Homo sapiens: one gene and its partners. The protein of the gene in region 3 purifies or fractionates together with the protein of the main gene of each other region. This does not show direct contact. Each region holds a gene or a part of one and is shown on either strand. Other genes may lie near its edges.

Region 1 (3,723 bases), on a different chromosome or scaffold from region 3:
GTATTCTTAATACACTGTATTCTTAATACCTTCTAAGTCTATCATTATGTCCTCTTTTTACTTCTAACATGCATTCTCTCACCAGTTTTCTGACTTAGACTTGTCCAAGATTTGCTTATTACACTGACGTACTTCTAGAACTAGTTGAAAACATTCTACTGTGTTTATGTTTTCTTTTATCTGGTATACTTGATTTCTTCTGCTTTCCCTGCTTTTTTCCTATCATTCAGCATCTGTCTGTCTGTCTGTCTCCCTATTTTTCTGATGAGACGGGGTCTCATTCTGTCACCCAGGCTGGAGTGCAGTGGCATGAACATGGCTCATGGCATCCTCAAACTCCTAGGCCCAAGTGATCCTTCCACCTCAGCCTCCCAAGTACCTGGGACTACAGGCACACACCACCATATCTGGCTAATTTAAAAAAATTAGCTATATTGCCCAGACTGGTCTCAAACTCTTGGGCTCAAGTGATCCTCCTGTCTTGGACTCCCAAAGTGCTAGGACTACAGGCATGAGCCACCATGCCCAGCTTCCTTCAGCTTTTATAAGAAATTATTTTCCTGCTAAATTTCTAAAATTGACTGTTTAGACTCTTTGTCCTCAAATTTCCATATGCTGTAATTTGATACAAAAAGGTGGTGTATTAACAGATCAATCCTAATTTCACAATAAGAGATAAAATCAGATATCTATGTATCCCGATGTATTACACAGGAAGTATATAATATCACCTATCAAGCATTCTTGCCACTTGACAGAAATTCAAGGTTGAAAGAAACATGTTAAAGACAACAAAAGGATACATTCAGCAAAATCCAGAAGGTAGAAAATTTCTTAAGACAAACAAATTATAAGAAAAACGAAATAAGGGTAAATCTGTAGATTAAAACAAACTGAAGGCTGATCATGGTGGCTCACACCTGTAATCCCAGCACTGTGGGAGACCAAGGTGGGCGGATCACCTGAGGTCAGGAGTTTGAGACCAGCCTAACCAACATGGTGAAACCTCATCTCTACTAAAAATACAAATAATAGCCAGGCGTGGTAGTGTGTGCCTGTAATCCCAGCTACTCAGGAGGCTGAGGCAGGAGAATTGTTTGAACCCAGGAGGTGGAGGTTGCAGTCCAGCCTAGGCAACAGAGCGAGACCCTGTCTTAAAAAAAACAAAAACAAAAACAAACTTAAGAGACATATCATTCAAATGTAAAGTGTGGCTCTTCCTTAGATTCTAACGCAAAATTAAATTAACCACAGGGCGCACTGGCTCACGCCTGTAACCCCAGCACTTTGCAGGGCCGAAGCAGGTAGATCACCTGAGGCCAGGAGTTCAAGACCAGCCTGGCCAACATAGTGAAACCCCATCTCTACAAATATACAAAAATTAGCTGGGCATGATGGCAGGTGCCTGTAATCCCAGCTACTTGGGAGACTGAGGCAGGAGATTGCTTGAACCTGGGAGGCAGAGGTTGCAGTGAGCCGAGATTGTGCCACTGCACTCCAGCCTGGGCGACGCGAGACTCCATCTCTAAATAAATAAATAAATAAAAGAAAATGGGGATTCTATAAAATTGGGATAGTAAATCTATTTTATAAGTGTGTTAAATGAGTTAATACTATAGCACTTCCATAATAATAACTGCTAACTGCTACTGAGTATTTTATACGTGTCTAGCACCATGAGAAATGCTTTATACATATCACACAATATATATTTCACATAGTGAAAAGGTTTTTCATATGTCCAAAGTACAAATGAAGCTGATTTACATAAGAAATGGTCCAATTATTTTCTGTAAATGAAACTTACTTTTGCTTTAAAACTGTTCTTAGAGCATCTTTCTGTCCCATTGTATACTGAGAAATGAAGATGTCATTTGCTGCAAAATCAAGACACAAAAATATATATTAAATTCCTGAATATTTATTAAACTTTAATAAGCTACTAAAAAAATCTTTTTTAACTAAAAGAATGTTTAGGAACTCAGCCATAGCATTCCACGATCGAAAAGGACAAGGAACAAATTAAGTGATTAAGTAATAATATAATCCTCATAATCCCAAACCCACAGCCAACATCATACTGAACGGGCAAAAGTTGAACACATTCCCCCTAAGAACTAGAACAAGACAAGGATGCCCACTCTTACCACTCTTTTCAATACAGTAGTGGAAGTCCCAGCCAGAGCAATCAGACAGAGAAAGAAAGAAAAGGCATCCAAAAAGTAAAAGGAAGTCCAATTACCTCTGTTCACTGATGACATGGTCCTATACCTAGAAAACCCTAAAGATTCCTACAAAATGCCCCTAGATCTGATAAATGACTTAAGTAAAGTTTCAGGATACAAAATCAACGTACAAAAATCAGTAGCGTTTCTATACACTAATAACATTCAAGCTGAGAATGAAATCAAGAACTCAATGCCATTTACAACAGCGGCACACAAAAAATAAAATTCCTAGGAATACATTTAATCAAGAAGGTGAAAGATCTCTACAAGGAGAACTATAAAACACTGATGAAAAAAATCACAGATGACACAAATAAGTGGAAAACATTCCATGCTCATGAATTAGAAAAATCAATATCGTTAAAATGACCATACTGCCCAAAGCCATCTACAGATTCAATGCAATTCCTATTCAATTACCAACATCATTTTTCACAGAATTAGAAAAAACTATTTTAAAATTCATATGGAGCCAGACACGGTGGCTCACGCCTGTAATCCCAACACTTTAGGAGGCTGAGGTAGGCAGATCACTTGAGGTCAGGAGTTTGAGACCAGTCTGGTCAAGATGGTGAAACCCTGTCTCTACAAAAAAAAAATAGAAAAATTAGCTGGGTGTGGTGGTGTGCACCTGTAATCCCAGCTACTCAGGAGGCTGAGGCAGGACAATTGCTTGAACCCGGGAGCTGGAGGTTGCAGTGAGCTGAGATTACGCCACTGCACCCCAGCCTGGACAACAGAGGGAGACTCCGTCTCAAAAAAAAAATTTATAAACATATCTAATACTAAACCTCTGCAATAGGTTGGTAATAACAAGATAACCTTCACCATTGCAAACCTTATTCTGGATTTTATAGCTTCTAGTGATAGCTTAATTTGGGAAGAAAAACTAATTTAAAATGAAAATAATAAAAACTATAAGACTACGTAATAAATGTTTAAAAATAAATTCTACCCTTAAGAAGAAAATTCTGACACATACTACAACATGGATGAACCTTTAAAACATTATGCTAAGTGAAATAAGCCAGTCACAAAAGGTCAAATACTATATGATTCTACTTATATAACGTACCTAGGGTAGTCAAATTCATAGAGACAAAAAGTAGGATGCCCAGGGCTGAGGGGATGAAAAATGAGCAGTTAGTGTTTAATGGGTAGAGTTGGGAGAGATGACAAAGCTCTGGATATGAAAGGTGATGATGATTGTACAACAATGTGAATGTACTTACTGTCACAGAACTGTACATTTTAAAGTAGTAAACTTTATGTTATGTATATGTTGTCACAATTTAAAAAAATCAATATTATTCTTTTACCTTTTTGCTTGTTGTTCTCTTCTATTTTATCCAAAGGCAACACTTGCACTGCAACGTCTTTAGAAAAATCCTTTGGGATATGAAAGGAAGAAATAGGCTAAATAAACTTCATGATTTATTATTTATCAAGAACCGTTTACTAGCTATGTGACTACTGTGTTCTGGGAGGGCAGGAC
Region 2 (3,723 bases), on a different chromosome or scaffold from region 3:
GGGCTATTTGGGTTGATGGTTAGTTATATGATGGGTTGTTATATATTGAGTATGTTTGAAAGTAGAGAATAACAATCATAACCATTTCACTGAATAACTATTATGACCCAGGCACTAAGTGATTTGTAATACTATCTAATGTACACTAAAACATTATTCCCAATGCTTACTACTACAAAGTATATAATGACTGCCATTTTAAAGATGAGTAAACTAAGGCTCATAGTATTAGGTTAAATGCTAAAGTCAAGTTTGAACTCTGATATGGTTTTCTGAGACAGAGTTTCACTCTTGTTGCCCAGGCTGGAGTGCAATGGCGCAATCTTAGCTCACTGCAACCTCCGCCTCCCAAGTTCAAGTGATTCTCCTGCCTCAGCCTCCTGAGTAGCTGGGATTACAGGCATGTGCCACCATACCCGGCTAATTTTGTATTTTTAGTAGAGACGGGGTTTCTCCATGTTGGTTAGGCTAGTCTAGAAACTCCCGACCTCAGGTGATCTGCCTGCCTTGGCCTCCCAAAGTGCTGGGATTATAGGTGTGAGCCACCATGCCTGGCCCTCTGATATGTTTAATCATGATCTTTTTCACTACACCATGACTTGACGTTCAATGTGTTAAGACAGCAGGTTTTACAGCCAGACACGGCAGCTCATGCCTATAATGCCAGCACTTTGGGAGGCTGAGGCTGGCAGATCATTTGAGGTCAGGAGTTCAAGACCAGCCTGGCCAACATGGTGAAACCTGGTCTCTTCTAAAAACACAAAAAATCAGCCAGGCGTGGTGTGGGCCGGCGCCTATAATCCCAGCTACTCGGGAGGCTGAGGCAGGAGAATTGCTTGAACCCGGGAGGTGGAGGTTGCAGTGAGCCGAGATAGTGCCACTGCACTCCAGCCTGGACCACAGAGCGAGACTCTGTCTAAAAAAAAAAAAAGGGGTCGGGCACAGTGGCTCATGCCTGTAATCCCAGCACTTTCGGAGGCCGAGGCAGGCAGATCATGAGGTCAGGAGATCGAGACCATCCTGGCTAACACGGTGAAACCCCGTCTCTACTAAAAATACAAAAAATTAGCCAGGCGTGGTGGTGGGCGCCTGTAGTCCCAGCTACTCGGGAGGCTGAGGCAGGAGAATGGCGTGAATCTGGCAGGTGGAGCTTGCAGTGAGCCAAGATCGTGCCACTGTACTCCAGCCTGGGCGACAGAGTGAGACTCCGTCTCAAAAAATAAAAAAAAAAGACACTAGGTTTTAATAATGAATTCTATGTTCCATCTTTCAAAGAAAATTCACTGTATGTGCCAAGGATCAAACAGTGATATGCAATTGTTATTTAATAACAAAGACTTCCATTCTTTTTTTTTTTTTTTTTTGAGATGGATTCTCGCTCTGTCGCCGAGGCTGGAGTACAGTGGCGCGATCTCGGCTCACTGCAAGCTCCGCCTCCCGGGTTCACGCCATTCTCCTGCCTCAGCCTCCTGAGTAGCTGAGATTACAGGATGCACCACCATGCCTGGCTTAATTTTGTATTTTTAGTAGAGGGGGGTTTCACCATGTTGGTCAGGTTAGTCTTGAACTCCCGACCTCAGGTGATTTGCCCACCTTGGCCCCTCAAAGTTCTGGGATTACAGGAGTGAGCCACCGCACCCGGCCGAGGCTTCCATTCTTTAAGCACTTACTATGCAACAGGTACTGTGCTATCTATTTGCAGTATTACTTTTTCTTTTCTTACAATAATCCTGTAAGGTAACATATACCTCTTTTTATAAATGAGGAAATTGGGGCTTAGCTAAGTTAACTTGCACAAGGTCACCCATGTAGCCAAGAAGCGTTACCTAGCTTACATTATTAACTCATGCCACTTTTATTTTTTGAGACGGAGTCTCACCCTGTCGCCCAGGCTGGAGTGCAATGGTGCGATCTCAGCTCACTGCAACCTCCGCCTCCGGGGTTCAAGCGATTCTTGTGCCTTGGCCTTCTGAGTAGCTGGGATTACAGGCGTGCGCCACCATGCCTAATTTTTTGTATCTTTAGTAGAGATGGGGTTTCACCATATTGGCCAGGCCGGTCTCAAACTCCTGACCTCAGGTTATCCACCTTCCTCGGCCTCCCAAAGTGCTGAGATTACAGGCGTGAGCCACTGCACCCAGCCCATGTCACTTTTTAAAAAGTTGATAAACAGGCCAAGCACGGTGGCTCACACCTGTAATCCCAGAACTTTGGGAGGCTGAGGAGCGCGGATCAAGAGGTCAACAGATCAAGACCATCCTGGCCAACAAGGCAAAACCCCATCTCTACTAAAAATACAAAAATTAGATGGGCGTGGTGGCTTGCACCTGTGGTCCCAGCTACTCGGGAGGCCAAGGCAGGAAAATTGCTTGAACCTGGGAGGCGGAGGTTGCAGTGAGCCGAGGTCGTGCCACTGCACTGCAGCCTGAGCGACAGAGACTCTGTCTCGGAAAAAAAAAAAAAAAGTTGGTAAATAAAAAGCATATATTTTTGGTTTATTTTATTTTGAGACAAAGTCTCGCTCTGTCACCCAGGCTGGAGTGTAGTGGTGCTATCTTGGCTCACTGCAACCTCTGCCTCCTAGGTTCAAGCGATTCTCCCACCTCGGCCTCCTGAGTAGTTGGGATTACAGGTGTGCACCAGGACGCTCAGCTAATTTTTGTATTATTTTGTAGAGATGGGGTTTCGCCATGTTGGCCAGACTGGTCTTGAACTCCTGACCTCAAGTGATCTGCCTGCCTTGGCCTCCCAAAGTGCTGGGATTACAAGCATGAGTCCCCACGCCTGGCCTACTAGCAAAACTTGATCTGTCAGCTACTTCACAAATTTGACTAAATTCAACAGCTTAAGGCTACTTCACAATTAAACAGCTGGTTGCATCAGAGCAATCAATCTCCTTGTTCTGAGTGACCTTAAGTCAATTAGAGGCCTAGAAGCTAGTTAAACTCTTTCAACTCAAGAGATTACACTATTCATCTAGAGTTAATGGAAATTATTATAGAAGAAATGTTCTGTGCAGAAGATCATCCTCTTAAGGTATATGTAAAAACAACTCCTTAAAAGCTCAAGAAGGCTGGGCACCATGGCTCACTCCTATAATCCCCAGCACTTTGTGAGGCCGAGGCAGGCAGATCACAAGGTCAGGAGTTCAAGATCAGCCTGGCCAACACAGTGAAACCCCGTCTCTATTAAAAACACAAGGCCAGGCGCGGTGGCTCACGCCTGTAATCCCAGCACTTTTGGAGGCTGAGGCGGGTGGATCACGAGGTCAGGAGATCGAGACAATCCTGGCTAACACGGTGAAACCCCGACTCTACTAAAAATACAAAAAATTAGCCAGGCATGGTGGCGGGTGCCTGTAGTCCCAACTACTCGGGAGGCTGAGGCAGGAGAATTGCTTGAACCAGGGAGGCGGAGCTTGCAATCAGCTGAGATCGCACCACTGCACTCCAGCCTGGGCAACAGAGCGAGACTCCATCTCAAAAAAAAAACCAAAAAAAAACAAAACAAAAGCAAAAAAGCAAAAACCAAAAATTAGCCAGGCGTGGTGGTGCGCACCTGTAGTCCCAGCTACCGGGGAGGCTGAGGCAGGAGAATCGCTTGAACCCAGGAGGCAGAGGTTGTGGTGAGCTGAGATTGTGTCACTGCACTCCAGCCTGGGCAACAGAGCGAGACTCCATCTCAAAAAACAAAACAAAACAAACAAACAAAAAGGCCCAGGGT
Region 3 (3,723 bases):
ATCTATAAAATACGGGAAAAATAGGGTTAATGTGCAGATCACATGAGTTAATAAGCAAAGTGCTTAGAGCAGGTCTTGGCATATAGAAAACACTGATCAAAGTTAGCTACATTTTAAATTTATCATTAACTATCTGTTCTAGTTCTCTGGCACTTTTGTTCTTATGGTCCTGCTGTGCCCAACCATCACATTCCTCTAACACACCCAATTTCATGCCTCCATGTCCAAGCACATACTGTTTTTATGTTGTCTCTCTCTCTCTGCCTAGATATCTTCTCTTTCCTCCAGGAAACTTTGCATGACTCCACATTCTAATTGGGAAGTCTCTGCTCCATGTTCCCAGAGTACCCTGTGCATCTGTCTACCGTATCAGTTATAGCACTGTTTGACCCTCTTCTACACTACATATTTATAACTTATTCATCTTTGGTTTTCAACACCTGGTACCAAGCTTGGAACCTTGTTTGTTCAGATAACCAAGTCTATAAGTATTATCTATATTTAATGCTCTTTTATGAGAGTTTTGAAGAAGAATCCAAAAGGATTTACTATGAGTTAAGTGTCAGGGCTCCATTGCTGGAGATTTCTTTTTATCTATTTTGCCTCTTTAGAAAATTACTCAACTAAATATCAAATGATATAGATTGCAACTCTATTTAAGTACAATCTAATAACTATCTGGATAGTTATTAGAACAATATGCAGTTCAAGTAAAAATGAATCCATTTTACTCTAGATTTTGAGTTATCATAGCAGGTGATCACAAAACAAGTCAGTTGCTATCTTATTTTACTTGCCTTCATGCAAATGGATTTTAGCAACCTAATCACTTATTGTAATATACAATTTGAAATTACTAAAACTAGAGCCACCTCAGAGTTTCTTTCCCTAAAAAGGCAGGATATAAATAAATGCAATAAACAAAACATTAAAAATGATATCACAAAAATTTATTTCATCAGCTTCTATGCCCAGATCTAGAAGTAATGCAGGACTAAACATAAATGGATATACTTCTTTGCTCTATTTTCTTTATATAAACTTAAACAGAAAATAAATGCCAAGCTGACTCATCATATTCAGTTACAATGTAAATAACATGACGTAATAAAAATAATAACAAGTGTATCTGTCAAATAAAGGCACTGCATTGTCTTTTTCTACTGTTAGCAATCCTACCTTTTAGAAAGCAAGTCATATTCATGTAAAATCATCAACAGATTTTCTACAATGTTGAGTTCACTTATCTTCTCCCTACATTCTTGACTATAAATTGAAAAATATTAGCAATTACTAAAAGCATATTTTGCTAGATCCATGTATTAGTCCTTTTTCAAACTGGTATAAAGAACTGCCTGAGACTGGGTGATTTATAAAGGAAAGAGGTTTACTTGACTCACAGTTCAGCATGGCTAGGGAGGCCTCAGGAAACTTACAGTCATGGTGGAAGATAAAGGAGAAGCAAGGCACCTTCTTCACAAGGCAGCAGGAAGGATAAGTGCCGAGCCAAGGGGGAAGAGCCCCTTATAAAACCATCAGATCTCATGAGAACTCACTCACTATCATGAGAACAGCATGGAGGAAATGGCCCCATGATTCAATGACCTCCACCTGGTCTCTCCCTTGACATGAGGGAATTATGGGGATTACAGGGATTACAATTCAAGATGAGATTTGGTTGGGGACACAAAGCCTAACCATATAAATTTATTTATTTAATATCCTAGCTCCAATATTATCTTGGGAGAAGAGATCAAAAAACAAAAGGAATCATATGTTATTCACAGAAAAGCAATGGTCCACTTATTGTCATAAAAACATTTAAAATAATCATGACATTTATAAGAGGAAAGATCTTCTTGAAAATTTTTCAAAGCCCACAGATGTTTGAAAACGTTCTGTATGTTAAAATTCACAGGTAAGAATGAATTAAGATGGTCAGAAAGATTCAACTGCCAAAGAAATATTATGGTAATTTTGAAATTAGAAGTAACTGAGGGTTAGATGAAAAGACTAAATATTTCCAGTCAGGAAATAAAAAGAAAATTTTAAACTGCAATTTGCCTTTCCAGTTTAAATTTTTAAATAATGCCTTCTATCCAGGATTCTCTTCAACATGTTATTTCACACTTATTTATCAAGAAATTGTATTAAGTAGTTGACAAAGTAACTGATTATTTTGCATCCTTACCACCTAAATTGCTATAGTAGCAGAACTGGAAAGTATATTAGAATACACTACTTACCTTTCTGCTAAACTAGCCAGAGCCAGAAGGGAACCCAATAGAACATTAGTATCTCGGGCACCAAGTAAATTTACTAATGTCTGAAAAATGAAGTAAAATAAAGTTTAATTATATAAGTACTACAAGCTTCTTTTTTCAACATTAACATTAATTTATTTTCCATTACCAGCTGCTTGAATGACAAAATGCTTCCCTCTTAAGATCATATAGGCTTAACTGTTTTTTTTTTTTGCTTAGTAGTTTATAATGTATGTGCATATACAATTAAGCACAAACTATATATAATGTTAAAGCTGCTCTCTCTTATGTTTTTTTCTTAATGTTATCTACTGAAATTTTTTCATGGCATTAAATATATCTTTATAAACACTTTTTGTCAATATAATCAAGTTGTTTATTTTATTATGGCTTTACCCATAGAATAGTGAAAAAAATTATGCCCTATCAAGCCTTATGCAGCTTCCTTTTTATTTTTTGCAGTCAATATAAAAGTTTATCTTAAAAAGAGTTTTATTAAACATTCAAAATATCCAGTTCTTTACAGATGGCAGGAGTCCATCTCTCCTTACTTTGGAACTCTTGATAGTAACCTCTTGTAGCCATTCCTTGCCCAGGACAGGAAGAAAAGGCATCAAGCTACATGACCAGCCTGGTTCTCATACATCCTTCTATTTCCATGTGCCCAAGTATTCTCTCCCCCTTCTGATCCCACGCTGGGAAGAACCAGGAAGATTAATGACATAAATTACAATAGTGGTAGTGATCAGCCATTGAGAACTCACTTTGAGCCAGGCATTGTGCTAGGCACTTTCCAAATTATGAAACGATTTTTCAACAAAATATTGAAACTTTCATTCTTTTGCCAAACTAAACAAGATATGAATACTATCGAGCATTCCATTTGCCTCCCAGATTTCTAATTGATGTTGAAAGTGCATCACTGATGCTCCCAAGCATCATCCTAACTAACATGACTTAGCTGGAAGTCTGTAGCTTGTCAGTGGCTTTCCCTGAATTCTCGTTAAGGCAAATTTTCTTATTTGGAAAATTCTCTACATTTTCAGAATGCGGAGTGCCCCTGAAAAGTGCCTCCCAAAATGTCTCAGGTCAGAGCTGCAACCTGCGCAACAACGGCTAAGGTAATTTTTATGTTTCCAGTATATGGATTTTTTGCCTTTATGATTTCATTTTATCTTAATGAAGTTATCATTATCTTTATTTGTCTGATCCTTTCCTCTTTTTCTTCTCTCTTTCTTCTCTGTCTTCTAATGTTTCCCAAACTTCAATCCATTACATATCATTTTCACATTTTTTGCCATATTCAACTAACATCTTTAATGTTAACTCAAAAAAATTTTTTCCAATTGTAAGCAATAATACCTGTGAAATAGCTGGCTACTGAAACAAAAAATGTTGACCTGTGTATCACCTAGAATCATCCTCTAGACCATGAGCAGCATGTGTTAACACATTTTAG
Region 4 (4,368 bases), on a different chromosome or scaffold from region 3:
AGACACTCTCTTCGATCTTAATTACCATCAAGTAAAGCCATGAAACCACATACAAGATACTAAATTGTTAAACGGGAGAAAATAGAGTGGGAGAATGCTTCTGTCTCTAAAAAGGGAAAAACAAAAATATCTCAAAACACAGTTCTTGAAAAGAACAGTCTCCTGGATCCTCACTGACAACTAGTTCAGAAAGACTTTTAGTATTTCTCTTTGTGCAATTTAAAAGGTTAAACTAATAAATCCTTATATCAAATAAAACTAAGCTATAAACAATGCTAGCAATTATAGCAAATAGGCAGATGTACTGTTCTTCAACAGCTAAGCCTGTGAGAAACACATGTTTTCAACTTGAGTAACCCTAACAGTAGCATCAGGCCTAGGAAGACGTCTGGACCTAGAAGTCTCCACATTCAGCCCCATCTGCCACAATCTCGAACTGCAGACTGATGAAGGCAGAGAGAGAAACTGACACAAACGCAAAGGCCTCAGAGTTTATAAAAATCTTAGTTTAAATACAGAAATAAAGAGAAAAAGCTTCTATATTAAATATCTCAATTTAAGTTCAGAATAAAGTCCCTACATATGCCATGATGCTTCACCCCATACTTCAGCCAACTCAGGATGGCTAAAGAATGTAAGTGGAATCAGAAAGAAAAACTGGAATTACCTATGTTAAAATAAGGTATATGACTATTTCTTGTTTTTGTTTGGGAGATAGTAGTGCCTGACAAATATTTTGCAAACCTTAAAGTGGAATTCTCTACATAGGCACAATCACTCCAGCACAAGTCAGGAGGACACTGTTCTTACACATGCTTTTAATTTGTTCTTCTGTGTCTCCTCTTCCTCACTAGTAAGAATGAAACAAAAACATTGTATCCACTTAATGTAAAGTGGAGCCAGCTCTTGGAGCCGGCTATTTTCTTCCTGTGATACTTGTCTACGTTACCTGGAATTTTAGAAAGAATTTATTAACTGCAGGTTCTTTCCTATAATTAGGATAAAAGCATACAAATATCTTAAGGCTTTTGGATCATCAAGCTGTTCAATAGAGAAAACGACTAAAACCTAGCCCTCAATTCCTAATCCTGACATTTCCCGGTTGAGGAGTTTGCAAAATAGACTTCTTACCAATATTCATAAAGTTACTATTAACATAGTAATATTAAATGGTCTCAGAATTTCACATATAAGTAAGTCTTCCAGTAGTTAGACAATTGGTGGGGAGCTAAAAATTGAAAAACTTCTTAGAGGAAAAAAATACAACATACAACGCTGACAGATTGTAACGAGTTTTTTCCTTAGAACCAGATTGTTGTTAAGAAATATTCTTTGAGCTATTTGGTAATCATGAGCTCATCTTCCCACACAAAAATATCACGCTGGGTGAAGTGGCTCACGCCTGTAATACCACCACTTTGGGAGGCGGGGGAGTCCCTTGAGGCCAGGAGTTCAAGACAAGCCTGGGCAACTTAATGGGACCCCCATCTCTACAAAAAAATTAAATTAGCCAAGTATGGTGGCTCGATCCCGCACTGCTAGCCACCTGGGAGACTGATGCAGGAGGATCGCTTGTGCCCAGGAATTGGAGGCTGCAGTGATCCCGCCACTGTATGCGGCCTGGACAATACAGCCAAACCCTGTCTCTAAAAGACAAAAGTCACTAAACACATAACGTTCACAGCAGCACCTCTTAGGAGTCGCAATGGTCTGCATAGTTGCTATTTATCCCTGTTTAGTGCAATTTGTATGTCATCTTTTCAGTTCCCCATTAGTAATAATTTTTTAAAAAGTCATCTTAGGGAAGACTTCCCTGTCACTTTTTCTCTTCGGTGCTCCTTCAACACATAAAATGCTAATTACTATTATATAGTAAATATCAAAACGAACTTTTCTATTTATTCGTCTAAATAGACAGTACTTATACTGTTTCCTAGCACCAGGCACAATGCCTTGTCAATTAACTCCTTGCACGTAGCGAAGTACTCTACAGTTAAAGACAACAAGATTATATCCTGGAAACATGCCAGGCCTTAAGAAATTATTTTTCTCAGACGTGTTTGGAGTGATAACACTGCCAAGTAACGGAGGTATAATAAGTGATTCTCAAGATAATTAATCCTACGCAGCTACAAACGCTGTAAGGTAAAAACAATCATTTTTACAGTTATCATTTTTATTCTTACTAGTTTTGTAACTTTTAACTTACTAGTGTTATATTATTATAACACGACGTAAAGGAATAGTGCGTAAAGGAACTGCTATGTACCAATGAGACCTGAGCAGGGCACACAAGACTGAAAGAAAAACAACCCCACGCAAAATCTAAGTCTTGCAGTTTTCACTCCTCGCGTCTCCAGTGTCCACGCATCCGCAGTCCTGTTTTTGTATTTCGCCCAAGATACACCCCTGGGCAACCTCAGGGTGCGAGGAACCCAGCTCTGCCTCCTGCTCCCCGCGGCTCCTGTACTACCCAAGGCTCGCGATCTTCCATGACCCCTCGAAGTTGCCTCCCTTTCCCGGGCAAAGAAGGGGCAGCGACCCCGCCTCGCCCGCCGGACCGAGCCAGGTCCAGCCTGGCTCCCCCCTGGGGCCGTGCTTCCCCCGCCCCCAACGGTCCTCAGGCCTGGGTCTCACCTCTCCACCCACTCCCTCAGGAAGCGCATTTCCTCGGTGTGCAGAACGCTCGGATCCTGCTTACACATTTTCACAAAGGCCCGAAGCTCGTTCACTTTGCGGGGGTCCATGGTAGGGAGGTGGTGGGCGAAACTGGGGGGGCTACGGCCCGGTTCCAGGCCCAGGCGCTGGCTCGGCGTGACCGCGCAGAAGGGGGCGGCTGCCGCAAGACAGAACAGACTAGAACCTCCCCGGCCGCTGGCTCCTCCCACCCAACGGTCTCGTGACCTCGGGTCCTCCGCCTGCTCATTCCTACTCCCTCTGCGCTGCTCCTGCGCGCTCCCTAGAATCTTCTAGAAGCGTGGCTGTTCGTGCTGTTGCCTGCCTCCCTGCGCATACATTCTCATATTCTTAACTAGGAACCAGCTCCCTGGATGGGGCAACCCCAGAAATGGGCGACTTCAAGGAGGCGGGAGATAACATCCCCTCCAGGGGGCGACGTCCAAGAGCATATTGTGTGGCTGCGTGCACTGAGTAGAGCTCAACGCCCGGGACCTAAAAAAAAAAAAAAAAAAGGGCGTGGAGCCGGAGGGTCGGTCCCAGCTCGGGGCATGACGTCACAACCTGCGCCGCCGCGCAAGGAAGGCCCGCGAGCCGCCTCCGCCGGAAGGGGAGGTGCGGCTGGCCCGGTTTCCTGGCGACGCGGCCCTGCAGGCGGTTGCGTTCCCCGTCGTTACCCTCTTTCTCTTCCCGACGCGTGAGTTAGGCCGTAATGCCTTGGCTGCTCTCAGCCCCCAAGCTGGTTCCCGCTGTAGCAAACGTCCGCGGCCTCTCAGGTTAGACTCTTCTCCCACGGTCTCCTCCCATGGTGTCCCCTGGAGGGACCCAAGTTGGTCTCAGGCGATCCCTGGTTCGGCTGACCCTTCTCCTGGTGGGGCCTCCGCTCCCCAACCCTCTGTGCTCCGCGGATTTCTTCTATACCGGCTGCTCCTGGAAAGGGGTGGGCCCAGTGTGTTCTCTACCGTTGAGGTATTTTGTGAAGCCGAAATGACTGCAGAGAGAAAAGTGTGCCATCCCCCAGAGGGGCTGTCTTCCAAGTTACTCGGACTCCGAAGTTGTGGCAATTATCACACTTAAGTGACAAAGTGTCTCACATCAAGTAGCTCTTGTTTCTGTTAGGCGTGAGAGCTTGCTCCAGAATATACACGAAGCATGTTTAGTAACAAATTCTTTCAGCAGCTCCTCTTAGGAGAGGTAACTGTTTCGAAATACTTCTGGGGCGTTCTGTGTCTGAAAGTCCTGTTTGCAAAGACAAGACGAAGGATAAGGAGAATAATTTTTTGTAGGGTGTCCTCTATTGCGAGCAATTAATCTGATGAACATAAAGCTTAATCAGTGAAAACTGAATCACCTTCCTTGCAGGCGGATCTGCCATTGGATCGTATTTCAGTTTTTTGGGTCAATATATGAACAATGTGTGAACCAGAACGTATGGTATTTGACATCAAAGCTATGTCTTGGCATATGTTTATGTTGATATACTTGAATTCATTTAAAATGGAATGTTAATTACATCGACTTCTTACTATAAAAAATAAAAAGTTATTGTCCAGTGCACAGAACTTGTTCTTCAGTTCTCATAGTAAAGCTGCAGAAAGACAACTCTCCGTGGGATTAGGTGAAAAGAAAGATGTGCAATTTTTCAGTCTTTTTTTGAGACAGGCTCTCATTCTGTTGCTCAGACTGGAGTGC

Evidence for each region. The genes of interacting proteins can lie anywhere in the genome.
Region 1: the proteins of NEK10 (region 3) and KIAA0586 purify together in Homo sapiens (affinity purification with mass spectrometry; one large-scale study listed by BioGRID and IntAct). This does not show direct contact.
Region 2: the proteins of NEK10 (region 3) and CS purify together in Homo sapiens (co-immunoprecipitation; one large-scale study listed by IntAct). This does not show direct contact.
Region 4: the proteins of NEK10 (region 3) and ST13 purify together in Homo sapiens (co-immunoprecipitation; one large-scale study listed by IntAct). This does not show direct contact.

What each region holds. Positions count from the first base shown.
Region 1 is NC_000014.9:58,430,542-58,434,264, reverse strand, and holds part of KIAA0586 (protein TALPID3), read right to left. Parts: intron 3,618-3,723; coding exon 3,548-3,617; intron 1,878-3,547; coding exon 1,808-1,877; intron 1-1,807. UniProt on the Homo sapiens protein: Required for ciliogenesis and sonic hedgehog/SHH signaling. Required for the centrosomal recruitment of RAB8A and for the targeting of centriole satellite proteins to centrosomes such as of PCM1.
Region 2 is NC_000012.12:56,276,285-56,280,007, forward strand, and holds part of CS (citrate synthase, mitochondrial precursor), read right to left. Parts: intron 1-3,723. UniProt on the Homo sapiens protein: Key enzyme of the Krebs tricarboxylic acid cycle which catalyzes the synthesis of citrate from acetyl coenzyme A and oxaloacetate.
Region 3 is NC_000003.12:27,306,680-27,310,402, forward strand, and holds part of NEK10 (serine/threonine-protein kinase Nek10), read right to left. Parts: intron 2,327-3,723; coding exon 2,247-2,326; intron 1,267-2,246; coding exon 1,180-1,266; intron 1-1,179. UniProt on the Homo sapiens protein: Plays a role in the cellular response to UV irradiation. Mediates G2/M cell cycle arrest, MEK autoactivation and ERK1/2-signaling pathway activation in response to UV irradiation.
Region 4 is NC_000022.11:40,853,794-40,858,161, forward strand, and holds the start of ST13 (hsc70-interacting protein), read right to left. Parts: upstream 2,847-4,368; 5' UTR 2,748-2,846; coding exon 2,638-2,747; intron 1-2,637. Other genes in the region: XPNPEP3 (xaa-Pro aminopeptidase 3), read left to right, coding at 3,389-3,452. UniProt on the Homo sapiens protein: One HIP oligomer binds the ATPase domains of at least two HSC70 molecules dependent on activation of the HSC70 ATPase by HSP40. Stabilizes the ADP state of HSC70 that has a high affinity for substrate protein.